2 separate regions of the Homo sapiens genome follow, and region 2 is linked to region 1. Evidence: fine-mapped expression QTL. Tissue or cell type: cerebellum. Region 1 holds a variant in brackets; the other region holds the start of a gene. All regions are shown on one strand. Distances are from middle to middle.

Region 1 (8,104 bases):
TGTTTTTTTTTTTTTTTTTTTTTGAGACAGAGTCTTGCTCTGTCGCCAGGCTGGAGTGCAGTGGCGCGATCTCGACTCACCGCAACCTCTGCCTCCCGGATTCAAGCAATTCTCCTGCCTCAGGCTCCAGAGTAGCTGAGATTACAGGCGCGCGCCACCACGCCTGGCTGATTTTTGTTTTTTTAGTAGAGATGGGGTTTCACCATGTTGGTCAGGCTGGTCTCGAACTTCTGACCTCGTGATCTGCCTGCTTCAGTCTCCCAAAGTGCTGGGATTACAGACGTGAGCCACCGCACCCGGCCAGTAGTTTATGTTAAAATTCCACTCACCTCTGCTGTTTCCACTAGTCACTGTGTCATTTTGCTGACCCAGCTCTTATTTTCGGGAGCTTATCAGTTACTACCTAAAGAACCCTGATGGCACCGCTCCAGGGCCATGGCCGTCTTCCCTTCTCGATATCTGCTCTGTTGGATGCTGCGATGACCGCAGCATTAGAGTGGGAGTTTCCTTTTGGGAATTAATCTATCAGCAGCTGTCACATAAAACATGACAGTAAATGTTGAGTGACAACAAATGACTGAGTGTATTCCTGAACATGGCAAGTTGACAGACACACACGAGCTTATAAAGAAAGACAAAAAGCTGGACTCCCTGACAACAGGCGCTAGGTCTCCATCTTAGAAGTACGAGACAGACTTGGGGAGATATATAACTTCCCCAAAAGGAAAGCACTGATCAATTTTTAAAATTCAACACAGCACTCTGAATTTCTTAGGGAAATAGGGAGATTACCATAGATGGAAGAGAAGCTGAATGCCTGTTTTCTGCTGGAAGAAAAAGCTCAGGTGAACTGGACAACTTGTTGTTTTAATACTTAGCAAACCAACTGGGTAGATCAAACCTTAGGCCTGAAAGAACTGCTATGATAATTAACGTTCTCCGGTGGCTCACGCCTGTAATCCCAGTACTTTGGGGGGCCAAGGCGGGCGGATCACGAGGTCAGGAGACCAAGACCATCCTGGCTAACACAGTGAAACCCCATCTCTACTAAAAACATAAAAAATTAGCTGGGTGTGGTGGCGGGCACTTGTAGTCCCAGCAACTCAGGAGGCTGAGGCAGGAGAATGGCGTGAACCTGGGAGGTGGAGCTTGCAGTGAGCCGAGATCGCACCACTGCACTCCAGCCTGGGCGACACAGCGAGACTCTGTCTCTAAATAAATAAATAAATAAATAAATAAATAATAATAATTAATGTTCTCATATTCATCTCTACATGTTGTTGTCATCGGAGGACATCTGACATCCACGGAGGGTTTCAAGTTGGTGAAAGAGCATTCCCAAATCCAACACACAGACTTTTAAGGTTGTCATTATACAAAACTCTGAAGTCATTTGTAGTATCTCTGTTCTCTAAAGCACCGTTCCCAGTAGTTTTACTACTTCTCTTGACTATCAGCCATGTAATTTGTACTTTTTTTCCCAGATGAATTATATAATTTTTCCAAGCTGATTTTCGCTGGGAGACTTCCTGTCCATCTCCAGTCTCTCTACGACCCTTCGAGTTAATTTCTCATTCCTTCCTGATGGGGTCTCTCGGTCCGTTCATCTGTGAATTTCATCAGTGTCCTCTCTACTCTCTCTTACAAATTATCAAGGCTGATGCTAAAAAAGACCAGATTTAATGCCAATCCCTTTCCATTAAACTAGCCAAGCAACTGATAAGCCACATTTAATTACATATCCAGAACTGCATTACTGCCTTTTGAATTCAGGAGAAGAGAAGAGAAGGGTAGAAAGCTTTCGATGTTTTTTGATTAAAATCCATTTAACTCTTGAAATGCCCAAATGGCACAAGGATTTCTTGATTAGGTCTCTGGTGTAAGGAACTGGCTCTCTGCAAAGCTGCCTTAAATATGCTTCTTTCTAGGCATTCATAGTGAGCTTTACATATTACTCTTAAAAACTGCAAAGGGGTCAGGCGCGGTAGCTCGCGCCTGTAATCTCAGAACATTGGGAGGCCGAGGCGGGCAGATCACATGAGGCCAGGAGTGCGAGACCAGCCTAGCCAACATGGCAAAACTCCGTCTCTACTAAAAATACAAAAAAATTAGCCAGCCATGGTGCCACACGCCTGTAATTCCAGCTACTAAGGAGGCTGAGGCATGAGAATCGCTTGAACCCAGGAAGCGGCGTTGCAGTGAGCCAAGACTACACCACTGCACTCCAGCCTGGGTACTGGAGTGAGACTCTGTCTCAAAAAAAACAAAAGAAAATCAAAAGAAACTAAAAAGGATTCAAGGTCATGGAACCCAGTGAGGCAAGCGGTCATTTACAGCATGTCACAAGAGCCCCAGAATCAACTACAACTTCCCCACAGATCTATACAGTGCACCCTCCCCTCACCTGCTCTCAACTTTTCACATCATACTCTCATTTACATAATAGAGGCAACGTTTTCCCTCCAGATGGTTATTACTAAAATAGATGGGTGATAAAAGGGGTCAAGGGTTGGCAATGTTTCTTAAAAGCTCACTCCAAGAAATATGCTTAAGTTTACAACTGAGAAGGCAGAGAAAAAAGAACCTGGAGTGGCAGGGCACAGAGCAGGTAAGAGTCCGTACGGAAAAGGCCCCATGCAAGACTTCTCCAGTTCTCAGTATCTGTGGAATAAAGAAGGCGAATTGCAGAGGCACCACCAGATCTCAGAGGACAACTCTCCAGAAGTATACTGTGGGGCAGCTCCTCTTCATCTCCTGCAGTGTTCTCTGCCTCAGTGACTGCGCCCAGACACCTAGACATCATCTTCAACTGCTTCCTCCACTGGCCTCTTCAACCAATTACTTGGTCTTTTTTTTTTTTTTTTTTTTTTTTAAATCCCTCAGACTCATTCAGACTCATCTCCTTCTAAATCCTAATTCTCTCAAAATTCTTCTCTTTCTCTCCCTACAACTATGCTAGTCTACTGTTTCTCATCTGGACTACTGCAACTGCCATCTAACTGGTCTCCAGGTATCCTCTCCTGCCCCATCCAATTTAGTCTCCAAACTGCATCCAGAGTGTTCTTTAAAAACCCAAATTCAGCTGGGCATGGTGGCTCATGCCTGTAATCCCAGCACTTTGGGAGGCCAAGACGGGTGGATCATGAGGTTAGGAGTTCAAGATCAGCCTGACTGACATGGTGAAACCCCGTCTCTACTAAAAATGCAAAAAATTAGCCGGGCGTGGTGGCGGGCACCTGTAATCCCAGCTACTTGGGAGGCTGAGGCAGAGAATTGCTTGAACCC[G/A]GGAGGTGGAGGTTGCAGTGAGCCAAGATCGTGCCACTGCACTCCAGCCTGGGCAACAGAGTGAGACTCCATCTCAGAAAACAAAAACAAAAACAAAAACGAATTCCTGCTTAAAACCATCCACAGATGTGCCATGGCTCTGTGTGATCTGATTTCACTCGCCTTTTAATTCTGACTCCTCCAGTTACTAGGTTTCTGCTATGTTGGCCTTCTTTAAGTTCTTTGAGGATTCAGGCATTCTGTTTTAGAGATTGTGTATAAATGGTCCCCTTTGCCTGGAAAGCTCTAAACTTATTTCCTTCCCTTAGACCTAATTTTATAAATCTTCAGAGCTCAGCAAAATGCCACTTGCTTACAGAGGGCTTTCCTCTCTCCCACATTCTTTACTTTTCCTTTAAAGCATCCAGATTTAATTACATATTCATTTTTATTATTTATGTCATTTTTTTTTTCTTTTGAGACAGAGTTTCGCTCTTGTTGCCCAGCCTGGAGTGCAGTGGCGTGATCTTGGCTCATTGCAACCTCTGCCTCCCGGGTTCAAGTGATTCTTCTGCTTCATCCTCCGGTGTAGCTGGGATTACAGACACTTGCCACCATGCCCAGCTAATTTTTGTATTTTTAGTAGAGATGGGGTTTCACCACATTGGCCAGGTTGGTCTCAAACTCCTGACCTCAGGTGATCCGCCCGCCATAGCCTCCCAAAGTGCTGGGATTACAGGCGTGAGCCACTGCACCCCGCCGATTTATGTCATTTTCTTAAAAGATATGTCTCCCCTATTAAACTCTAAGCTCCACGCAGGCAGGAGCAATGCCTGTTATGCTCACTGCCATATCCCCAGTACCTAGTTTGGTGCTTGGCTCACTAGAGACCTGCAGCAAACATTTGTAGGTAGGTAGGTAGGTAGGTAGGTAGGAAGGAAGGAAGGAAGGAAGGAAGGGAGGGAGGGAGGGAGGGAGGGAGGGAGGGAGGGAGGGAATTCTTTTTTTCTTTTTTACTCTCCTTATTTTATCATTCTCCTTTTCCCATCTCTGTTATTCTCTGAAGATGTATTAAGGCAGTAAGAAAAAATAACAAAAGATATGATGTCTTATAAAAAGAATGTCTAATCACTTTAAATACATAATAAAAGCAAATAAATGCATCAAATAATTAAATATATAAAAATAATCAATCTGCCAAGGATATTGTCTCCTTTGGTGTCTCATCTGTTTTTAAGTTCTATTACTTGGATAGAACTTAAAATGGTCCTAAATCTGTATCACAGTTCCATTCTACCCCCTGAAGCCAAGACCAGCATTTTCATCTTTCTCCTTAAGATATCAACTCATACTTCAACTCTAAAACCAAATTTATCACCTTTTTATGATGTATCATTTTATTAAGTTTCTTATTACTATGACTACCACCCAGATCATCCATGTTTGAAACTTCTTACACATCTGGAATCTTCTGTTTTTCTAGATCCCTGTCAGTCAATGGCCAAGTCCTGAAGACTCCATGTCTGCAGTCTCACTCATCCCTTCCTCTTCATCCCCATTCCCCATGTCTCACTGATCCCCTCCCTCCCTTCCCTCCTGTGCACTGCCATCTTTCATCCAGCCTGAGCATATCTCTGAACAGATCATTCCTGTTCTCAATAAGCTTTGCAACAATTATGATGCTGCTACCCCAGTGTTTCTCAACATTTAACGCATATCCCCTTTTGATTAATATAAAAATTGCATACCCTTGTATACATAGACATTACAGACATAGAGATTTTTTTCTATTCTTTAAATATAAAATTATAAAACTCAACGTGCTTCTTCAAACTCTACTCACTATATCCCTACCTCTGTCTGAGAATCACTATTGTTAGACTATGGACTCTCTGAAGGCAGGGCCTAGGCCAGTACCCAGTACATGACAGGCACTCAATAAAAGGCCTTGTTTATTAAATAAACTTGCTTATTTAATAAATAATATTTAATAGGACTATTATTAAGTAATAGGACTTGTTTATTAAATAAACTACTAAACCTTCACATTCAGGGTTATCCACTATATAAACTCAGTCCAGTTGTCCAATTTCAATATCCTACTATTCTCTAGTTGCACTTCACAGCCGATCAAATTATTCCAGCGGTTCTCAAAGCATGGTCCCAGGACCATGGGCATCAGTACCATCTGCGAACTCATTAGAAATGCAAATTCTCAGGCCCCACCCTAGACCTGCTGAATGGGAAACTCTGGTCTAAGAATAGGAGTGGGAGTAGAGCCTAGTAATGTGCGTTTTTATTAAGTGTTTCAAGTGATGCACGCTAAAGTTTGAGAACCACTGAAGTCGCCTATTCATTCTTATGTAAACATTATCCTTTCTACGTCCATGACTGTTCTTACATTCCTTCTACGGGGAAACACCTCAGAACCTAGTCCAGAGCCTGGGTAGTGCTCAGTAAATGTTTGTTTTGTTTTGTTTGACTGAACAGCCAAAAATCATATGAGGCCCACTTGATAGCCCTCATATAACTTAACTGAAATCACGCTTCTTTTTATGTTTACACTATTTCAGCTGATATTCAGAAATGCAAACTCATTCATAGTAACAATGTCGATATTCTAAAAGCATAAATTGACTATAATTTTCTATATTTTGAGAGTAAACCACGTATCATCTACCTTTCGGCATTCACAGCTTTTTACAAATTTTGTCATTTGTAAGATCTTAAGAGGAGATACCTGTTCTCAATTCCAAAGTGAAAAGACTTAAAATCTTTAAATTTAATAATTCAAATTTTCTAGAGCTGAAGGTAGGTACTTATTGATACTTATCTGTCCAATTATTGAGTGTCAAAATCATACAGTTGCTCCTGGGAGCCAGGTGAGACACTGGCTAACCTTGAAGGCAATGCAGGCAAGTAAAGACTTGCACTAAACAGGCAGATTCTCATGAGGAAGAAAATTGAAACCAGGAAGAAAAAGAATCTGGTGTTCCAAGCTGAAGAGAATTCACCTAAATTCCCAGATAACAGTAAAACCCACACACATGAAATGTAGTAAGTCATTAACTTGAAAATTAATAGAAATACAATTGTTCATTGTCTTAAAGGAAAAAAAAACTGTATAATAAAAACTTGAAAATACTAAAATACTACATACACACACATGCACACACACACACAAACACACACACACACACACACTACACATACAAATAGCCACAAAGCCAAGGTCATTTAAATGGCAGAGGTCATATAAGTCCTTCTAAGGAAATGGGATGCATTCTTGATATTAAGATGATACTTCATCAAAAAGACATGATTGGCAGGAAATTGCCAGAGACTACCGTCAGATTATGTTGGGAGCAATCTTACATTACCTAGGACAATTTTCCCCTTTTTAGTTAAGGAAATAGCTTCAGAAACATTACGTTACTTTCGCAAGATCACAGGTTTAAGCTATGTCACAGCCCAGGTCTACTTATTCTTAGACCAGAGATCCTGTCGTTATACCATTCTATTGTCCAGGAGAACCAAGATCTGCTGATGACCAAGAACCACAAAAGAAAACACGTTAAAATTTTAAGCAAGACCACTTGTAACTAAATCCGTCTGATTACTCGCCAGGTACATGAACCACCTTTACCAGGTCTTTAGCACGTTGCCTAACAAACTACGGTAAAGTCCATGAAAAGCTCAAGACAAAAATGTGGTTTCAATGTTATGAACATTTGCAAAACCAGGGTCATATAGAATTTAAATACGTAACAAGCAAACCTTAGTACATAAAAGAAGCAGATGGCTCTTTTATAGACACCCTGAAATGGGTTAAGTAAATGATAACAAACAATCTCCAAGAAGCTCTGTTGCTTTTGTTCTGCAACTCTCAAAACACAGGCTGGAACAACGTATTTTTAATTTGATGGTTGGCCTGATCCTTCTTCAAGTTCTGGTTTCAATAACTCCCAGAGACAACTCTTAACCTGTTAATCCATTTTAAATATATAGGTCAAACATCATTTCAATAATAAAATATCTAAACTCCCACCCATACTCCAGTTATTTTATGTACTAACTATGACATAATCTTTTTGGTTGTAGAGTTTTAGGACTGAGAAGGAAGGACTTTTGACACCATGTAATTCAATAACATCATTATGTAAAAGAAAGAACTAAGATTTCTGAAACAACTTTAATACAACAAAAAGCTTGGTAATCCTTGGGATTACCATAGAGAGAGGTCGTAGGAAAGTGTGCCGAGTATCCTATGTGTTAAATGCACATTGCTCTCCATATTTCTATCTTGTTTGAAATATTGTGAGTACATACCACTTTTAAAATTAAAACACAAAATTCAAAGCAAGGGTTTGCTGCTTAATTTTCTTAAGATTTTAAGAATTAAAAAAAAACACTGGATAATCTGGTAGGAAAATTTCAGTAACATTACTGTGAAAAAAATTACTATATACAGAGGGTTCCCCCCTCCCCCCAACACTCAGAAACACTGTCATTCATCCTCATAACATCCCATAACATAGAGTAGAAAATAAAAGGTGAGAAAAGATAAAGTCTTTATAACAGAGAATGACTCTAATTTAAAATTTTCAAAAACATTAAGCCTTATAATAATATTTCAGTGACAAATAGAGCCTTTAAGATGGTTTCTATATAGCTGAAGAAACCGAGGCACAAAAAGACAAAAATTGGAAAGCAGAGGCAAAAAATTAGTAACAGCTTTAAATTTAAGATTGCAAATCCTGAACTTTATATCCTAGGTAAAATTCCAAGAACTTTCTTTGCTGAAGGGAAAAATAAAAGGATGCATATGCCTTATTCACAA
Region 2 (8,094 bases), 89 kb after region 1:
AATAATAATGTAACAGAAACAATCAAATTCTATCAATAGTAAACTAAAATATGCCTATTAAAACAAGCATTTCATCACTGCAAAACCATTTGTTTCACATGAAGTCTGATTTTGCTCTCAGTTTGAAAGTTATTAAAACGATACATCAGCCTTTACAGGCAAGACCAAACAGTAAGATAATTTTACATATTTATCAAAAGATCATTCAAAGAAAACTTACCAAGTCTGCAACGTGTATATGCTTGTGCTTCGGAGGGAAAGCAGAGAAGCCACTTTCTGTACTTACACTGGAGTTCACTTCAGTGCTGAAAACACATCACTGTAGTCCTGCTTGTAATAAAGTCCGGACTAGCAATCTGCCTTTGGGTTGGGCTTTTCTCTTACAAGATAAGCTGTTAAGTCATGCCTTGATTTTAGATCTGCCAACATATGGAGTCTTCTAATGTAGCCTTCCCTCCACCCCCTCAACCCCCCCTGCCCGCATCCCCCCAATCCCCGCTCTGCTCCACTCCCTCTGCACACACACACATACACACATACAAAAAAGGCACTGCAGGGCAGAAATTCCTCAGGTGCTCGCTAATGGAATTCCCAGGGTCTTGGAGCCGCTTCGGGGATCAAGAGATCTCATAGCCCCCGCTGGGGTAAGGAGCAGCGAGTCTGTTCCATTTAATCAAATACAGAATGAATTTTCAGCTCTATTCACTAGCTTGTCTCCAGGGCTCTCAAAAGGCACCAGGCAGCTAGAATCACACACATGTGGCTCTTTTAGGCAAGTATAATTAGCTTGATTTTAAAAAGCCACATTAATAATATCACCTCAGGACCATTATTCAGGAGACAGATGACAATGATACTGTATGTTTTAAGCCTGACAATGGGGGAAAGAGCACAAGCAATGAGGGAAAACTTGAAGGATTAAAAAAAAAAAAACCAAGAAACCAGTTTTTCATTTAATTGTAATCCAATATTTTTCAAGTGACATTAAGAATATTCCATACACCATCCCTTCTTTTTAACAAAAAAGAATCAAGTAAAGCCCTCCCCTGTGCTGTTGAAAGTGAGTTAGTGCCAAATACACAACAAAAACTTATCACATGGAATGATTACATACAATATAAAAATTTAAGTAAAAATAAAACATTCTCAAATTCAAGTTCACGAAATTTCTTGAAAAAATTCCCCATTAAAAAATACTGTAAAAAAGCAAGTCCTTCAACTCAAAATATTTGGCAACCATACTCCAAATTCTGTTTCTAATCTAATTAGTTTGTATTAAGTTCATTTACTTAAAGGGGGGCTACCATGTACGCAGCTCATCTACAGCTCCACTGTATTGTCTTACCCATACTTCTACATCATGCCATAGCTGATCACAAGGCGCTGGCTCATATCATTACACGTTAAAGCAACACATTTTTCAACTCATTATTTATTTTCTAACGCTTCCCTGATTTTTACTACGATAATATTTAATTCCTGAAATCATTTCCCTAGTATTTAACTTCGAAACAATCACCAATTTTTAGTCTAAACGTTCGTGGAAAAAAAAAAATTCTACAGAAGGAAAATTTTACTTCAACTTACATTTCGACAAAACCATACATGAAATTGTCTACAAAGTCATGAAGGCAGATGGGCGAAGTGGGAAAATAAGAAGCAAGCCCAAGAAATAGTCAACAAATTTTTACCTGCTCTCTTTAGAACAAAGCCCTAGGACATTAGTTCCTATTCCTACCTACTGCCTTCAGCTGTATATACCCTGACGATCTGGAGGAGAAAGTCCTATCTTAAAGTGAACTTAATTCTTTTCCTGCAAAGTCAAACCACCTGCAAAGAAAGCAAGGCGTAAGCTAGATTTAGAAGCCAAGCTACACAAGCTAGATCAGTATCCAAGTCCTAAGGGTTCTTTGTACTTGAAGGCTTGAGAGTCAGAGCTGTTTAAGTACTTTGCACAGAAGAGGAGGCTGATGAGAACCATGGCAATCAATCAAAGCATCCCAAGTGAGTTATTACACAAACAACAGCACAGTACCTCTAGTAACTGATTCTCCTGGCTGACTAAACTATTCAAACAAAGACAGATTTCCCAAACACTGGGAAGTTTTTGCATGAAAGTTAAACAGTATACATTTGTGTGTTTCTTAATAGAAATATAAATGTTTCTGTTCTACACACTGCCAAACACACACCCAGGGCACGTCTTTACAAAATGAAACAGGTTTTCTCCATCCTTCTCATATAACTTCAAGTATGAGGCAGTTCATTCCAACATGTGCATAACAGAGACTGCAGTATTTGGTGCTTCTCGGGTTCCAAAGAATGCTTTCTAGTTAAGCACTAATTTAAAATTTCCAGAAAATTTTTTGAAGGTTTTCTTTCATCTTATCTTAAAAGTTGAACTATCCCCAAATTTTCAGCTAAAAATAGACTGAGGGTGGGGGAGAACTACAAAATGTCATAGAATGTTTAGAATTATGCTGACAATAAACTCATTTCATTTTCTAACACCCTCCCCACCTTCCTCTCCTTGGAGACACTGTCCACTAGGTATGCCAAGTGTCAGTTGGGAATTTGAGGGTTATGTTATCAGCGCCGAAAGGAATCAGAATTCACTGACTTGGCGTCTTTCATCTTTACTGGCATAGGCCTGAAAATAAATCTCATGTGAGCTTTTAGTCCAACCTCCTGTTTTTCAAGGTGTCTGGTTTGGGACACAAAGGCTGACTTTCTGTTGATGAGGTTCTCTAAATTCTGGATTCCCACTGGAAAGCAGTCTGCCCTTAAAGCACCTGCCACCCTCTGTCGTCCTGATGAGGAAGGGCAGGCATTCTGGAAACAGCTCCTTTTGGAGAGCCTTCCACCTGATTTGGTGGGGTTAGGGAGAACAATGAAGGGAAGGGCAAGAGAGTCTATCTATCCCCCTCAGTGATTTATTGCTGAAATTCCTAGATGTGGAGAGAAAGCAACAAAGGTCTGGAAGCTGCCGACTGAAATAAATAGCGAGCTGTAATGTATTTAGCAAATGATAATGCAATCCACAGAAAGCTTTACAGAGGAGAAGGAAAAATACACTCCCTGGGGCTGGGAAGTCAGTGAGTCTTGTGAAGGCAGAGAAAGATACATTGTGCAGGAAATTTCTCTTGCTTCTCCCTACACATAAATCACTGTCTCTCGCGGGCGCTCTGCAGGGATGGAGATTGAGAGAGGCCAGGGACCCGGCTCCCTTGGGAAAACGCGCGGGCGCCCTAGCTCCCCGCTCTGCGGCATCTCACCTGCCCCCGAGGACCATCGTCAAGAAGAGGTTTCGTCGTGTCACTGACACCTCACCCCGCCTCCTCCCGCGAGGTGCCTCCGAGCCCCCGAGGACGCGGAACGCCGGGGCTCCCCGCCGGGCAAGCATCAGCATCCAGACCCCGCACGCAGCCCTGCACCCCCACGCCCTCCAGGGAACGCCGGCCCGCCCGTCCCCGGGACCTCCCGTCCCCTAAGCCAAGGCCCCCCAAGCCCAGTGCCCGCGCGCCACCCCTCCCTCCGACCCTGCGGCGGGACCCCCACCCCCGCACCTCTCCGCGGGGCTGGCTAAGCCTCCAGACCTCCTGCGCTGCAGCCGGCTCGGAAAGCCACCCCCAGGTCATCCCCCCGCGCGCGCGCGGCGGCGGCTACGGTGGCGGCGGCTGCGATCCGAACGGGCCCCTCCATGCACCGCGCAGGGCAGAGGAGGGAGCGGCGCCTCGCACGCCGGGGCTGGGGCGCTGGGCAGGGCGGGCGGGCGTGGGGTCCCGGGTCTCCTCGCACCTAGCCGCGCGAGCCGGGCTCCCGGGCTCAGGGGAGGGGAGCTGAGGGGCGGAGTCACCGGGGCGCGCCCCCGCGGCTGCGCTCCTCCCCGCCGGGGAGCGCGGGCACGTAACTCGGAGGGTGCTGGGCCGGCCCGGAGCACGCGAGCAGCGGGAGGAGGGACCGGGGAATGACTGACGGAGGCGGGCCGTAGAGGCCGCTGTGCCCCGCCGGCCCGCACCCGGCCGGAGTGTGCGCGCGCAGCCTGCCAGATCAGCGGCGGGGGCACGGGCCGTACCAAGTGACGGAGGGGGGCACGCTCTGGGCAGGACCCTCTCCTCGTCATTGACCTGCCTACTCTGCAAGAGAGATACCCCAGGGGAGCATAGAAGAGGCTTTTCTTGGGTGTAGGACAGGTAAGGGTGAGTTGCCTTACCAAGTCACGGAGATTCCCATCATGCCTGCACTCACGCTCCCCTCACCTTTCATTCCCTTGGAGAGACGGCTCTTCTGGCAGGTCTCCAAATGGTCGACTCTGTCCCCCGAGGCCCCGCCCTAGCCTCGTTCGGGCCCCGCCCTAGCCTCGTTCGGGCCCCGCCCTAGCCTCGTTCAGGCCCCGCCCCTCGCCCCGCCCCGCCCCTCGCCTCTACCTAAGTTCTCTGAGCCGCCAACGGGTGCATCCCTTCTCCCGGTTCTTGCCTGGTCTCTCTTAGGGTTCCAGCGGCCCACCGCTTATACCTCCTTCGCCTTTCCACCACTTTCCATGTTTAATTCCTTAGGCAGCTTCATCTGATTCCCCCACCACCACCCACCCGCCCTGCCTGCACATAAACGCAAGCAGGTAGCAAAACTCAGGGGCTAGGAGAGGCGTGGTGTGAGCCTTTGGCCCCAGAGTCTTTCCAACTCGTCCGTTGGACCTGCCCCAAGTTATCTGAACTCAATGAACTTCAGTTGTTCAAACAGAAAAAGGAAAAATAAATTTCTATTCAAAATGTTGCTGTGAAGCGTAAATACGATACTTTGTGAAAAGCACCTGCCACTCAGTGGGCATTCAAGGACTGTAACTTCTTTATAAATTGTTATTATTAGCAGTTAGCTCTTTTTTTTCCCCATCATCATTACTTACTATTAGCTTAACTACAAAAGGATCCCTAATAATAGTTAAGTTTATAAATACTCAGTACTGAACTTCAGGAGAAATATGCCAGTCCTCCCTTACCTTCTTACGTGAATTTTAAAAAGAAATGCTTTGAAAGTGTGGTATTGTTCAAGCAGGTTAGCTTTCTGCATTAGCTAGATTCAGGGTTTTTGTAAAGCCCCTGGAAAGAAAGTCAGTACAGGACGGAAAAAAAAAACACAATTTTTTTTCTTAAGACGGAGTCTCACTCTGTCGCCCAGGCTGGGGTGCTCTTGTTGCCCAGGCTGGAGTGCAATGGTGCGATCTTGGCTCACTGCAACCTCCGCCTCCCGAGTGCAAGCGATTCTCCTGCCTCAGCCTCCCAAGTAGCTGGGATTACAGCACGTGCCACCACACCCGGCTAATTTTTGTATTTTCAGTAGAAACGGGGTTTTGCCATGTTGGCCAGGTTGGTCTTGAACTCCTGACCTCAGATGATTCTCCCGCCTTGGCCTCCCAAAGTGCTGGGATTACAGGCGTGAGCCACCACACCCAGCCAGAAAAAAACTCTTAACTCTAGTTTGTCCTCCACTGTTCTATTGTTCACTTTTGGAGACCAAGAATCTATATGTTATTAACAAGCTATGGTAAACGATTTTTCATTCGGCAAGTAAGTCTTTCTATAGAGGATTTAACTGAAATGAGAGTTTTGTGTGGATGTTAATAGAAGTCTTGCAAATTTATTGTGGCTACAGAGAATTCCAGGTTCTTCTCCTGGGACATAATGCACTTTGTGCACCTCCAGATCTCACAGTGCCATTTGAATTCACTATGCCTACTGTTACTCATAGTCAGACTAAGAAAAAAATCACAATGTTTGTTGATATTAATTACTTCCTCTCCCCCTTTTTTTGTAAAGCAGAGAAATCATTTCAGGTGTAAAACAGTTTTTCATTAATGAATCATTCATCCATTTGTTCAACATTAAGAAACAATGTGCAGTCCCAAGCTTCAAAGAGCTCACAGTCTAACTGTGATACAGACACACACGTGGGTAAGTACAAGGAGACATCTTCAGTGCAATGAACAGGGAGCTGTGTGAACACAAGGTCAGTATAGTATTGAGTATAGTATTAAGAGGTGATAGTATTAAGAGGTGATAGTATTAAGAGGTGATAGTATTAAGAGGTGATAGTATTAAGAGGTGATAGTATTAAGAGGTGATAGTATTAAGAGGTGATAGTATTAAGAGGTGATAGTATTAAGAGGTGATAGTATTAAGAGGTGATAGTATTAAGAGGTGATAGTATTAAGAGGTGATAGTATTAAGAGGTGATAGTATTAAGAGGTGGAGACTTTAGAAGCTGACTAAGTCATGAGGACCACCCTCATGAGCAAGATTCATGACCTTATAAAAGGGCTTCAAGGAGCTAGCTAGCCCCTTCTGTCCCTTCTGCCGTGGGAGGACACAGAGAGGTCATCATCTGTAAGGAGTAGGCACTTACCAGACCCTGAATCTGCAGGCACCTTGATCTTGGATTTCCCAACCTCCATAACTATGAGAAATAAATTTCTGTTGCTTAAAGAGTACCCAATCTAAGGCATTTTGTTATAGCAGCAGAAACAGACTAAGACACTATGGGGCCTCCAACCACAGATGTCCACTATGTAGAGAACTCCAAGTGGAAATACGGATTTAAACGTCATCAGCATAAAGTAGTGTTTATACCATTAAAGTGGAAGCGATCTCTCAGGAATAATATGGAACCAGAAAGTTGTAGCCAAGGATGGATCTCTAAAACTCCAATAACTAAAGCCCCCAATTATCTTGATGAATTTGGAGCAAAGGCTGTTTACTGAACTCAAGGTATGGGACTTGAAAAGGATGCTTGAAGAAGGTGGTGAAGGTTTGGAATAGTCATTAGGAAAAATGAGAGTTGAAAAATGAAAGTAGAAAATCACTCAGAGAATTGATAAGTGATGCTGAGGGCCTGGCTGAGGTTGGAGACCATTAATGTATGGTGATGGAGCTTGCATGATTATGTGGTTTTCTCCATCAAAATTTAATCAGTCAGGTAGAAGGGGAAAAGCATAACACCAACCCAATTTTGAAGTTTTTCTGGAAGTTGTACAAGAAGGAAAATAACACACGGTATTGGTAAGAAAATTTTTAAAACAGCAATCATAGAATCCAGGCAGTGGAAAAGGTGTAAGAGGTTTGAGAAGAATAATAGACTGGAAAAATTACAAATTAAAGAAAAGGAGATATGTATGACATTAAAGAGCTGTTGTTACAGGATTGAGTAAGAAAGAACCAAGAAGTCTTTGGTAATAACCAGAGTTTACCATTTCAGAAGTAGAACAGTTCCAAGTAATGATTAGATCTAGTATGTTTACCGGTGCTGGTGGACGATGTGGATGATTTATGCCGTCAGGGGACATATTGAAGGAACTGAGAGGCTGATAAATGAAATACCATGAGCCAAGTACTCAAGTCCTCAGGGATGAGGTGGGAAGGTTGTTAGATACTAAGTGACATTTAATACATTCCAGGCCTGAAGTGGGTGCTTTTATAATACTCAATACATGTTAAAATTGGTTCTCCAAGGCCGGGCGCGGTGGCTCACACCTGTAATCCCAGCACTTTGAGAGGCCGAGGCGGGCAGATCATGAGGTCAGGAGATCAAGACCATCCTGGCTGACATGGTGAAACCCCGTCTGTACTAAAAATACAAACAATCAGCCAGGCGTGATGGTGGGTGCCTACAGTCCCAGCTACTCGGGAGGCTGAGGCAGGAGAATGGCATGAACCCAGGAGGCGGAGCTTGCAGTGAGCCGAGATCCCATCACTGCACTCCAGCCTGGGCGACAGAGCAAGACGCCATCTCAAAAACAAAAACAAAAATGGTTCTCCAAGAATAACATAATAGAGTAACTAGAGTCCATAAACTTGTATCACATTCTGACTGTACCTTATTTGATCTTGGTCAAATAACTTAAACTCTTGGAGTCTTGATTTCATCATTTGTAAAGTTGTAAATGACTTCATCATTTGTAAAGAGTAATAATACCTCATATAGAGTTGTTAATAGGACCTACTTCAGTGGTTTGCTAGGAGGATTAATTGAGATGATACACACAAAGCACTTAATACAGTGATTGGCAAGTAGCAAACACTGGATAAAAGTGTTTTTAACATA

The links. PIP is the estimated chance that this variant, and not a neighbour inherited with it, causes the effect.
Region 2: CDON starts here. The variant in region 1 is fine-mapped to the expression of CDON in cerebellum (GTEx, PIP above 0.99). The same link has a PIP of 0.9 or more in cerebellar hemisphere.

Annotation. Positions count from the first base shown.
Region 1 is chr11:125,970,171-125,978,274 of GRCh38, forward strand. The region is part of intron 18 of CDON (cell adhesion associated, oncogene regulated); the gene reads right to left. Among named protein-coding and RNA genes, the nearest start is that of VSIG10L2, 28 kb to the left of the region's middle. The variant G/A (reference allele first, on the strand shown) is at 3,286.
Region 2 is chr11:126,059,013-126,067,106 of GRCh38, forward strand. It overlaps CDON (cell adhesion associated, oncogene regulated), which reads right to left and starts at 3,854. Exons shown (of 20, transcript NM_001378964.1): 1 at 3,567-3,854. RefSeq lists an enhancer at 1-1,411 and silencers at 3,612-4,281, 4,352-4,441.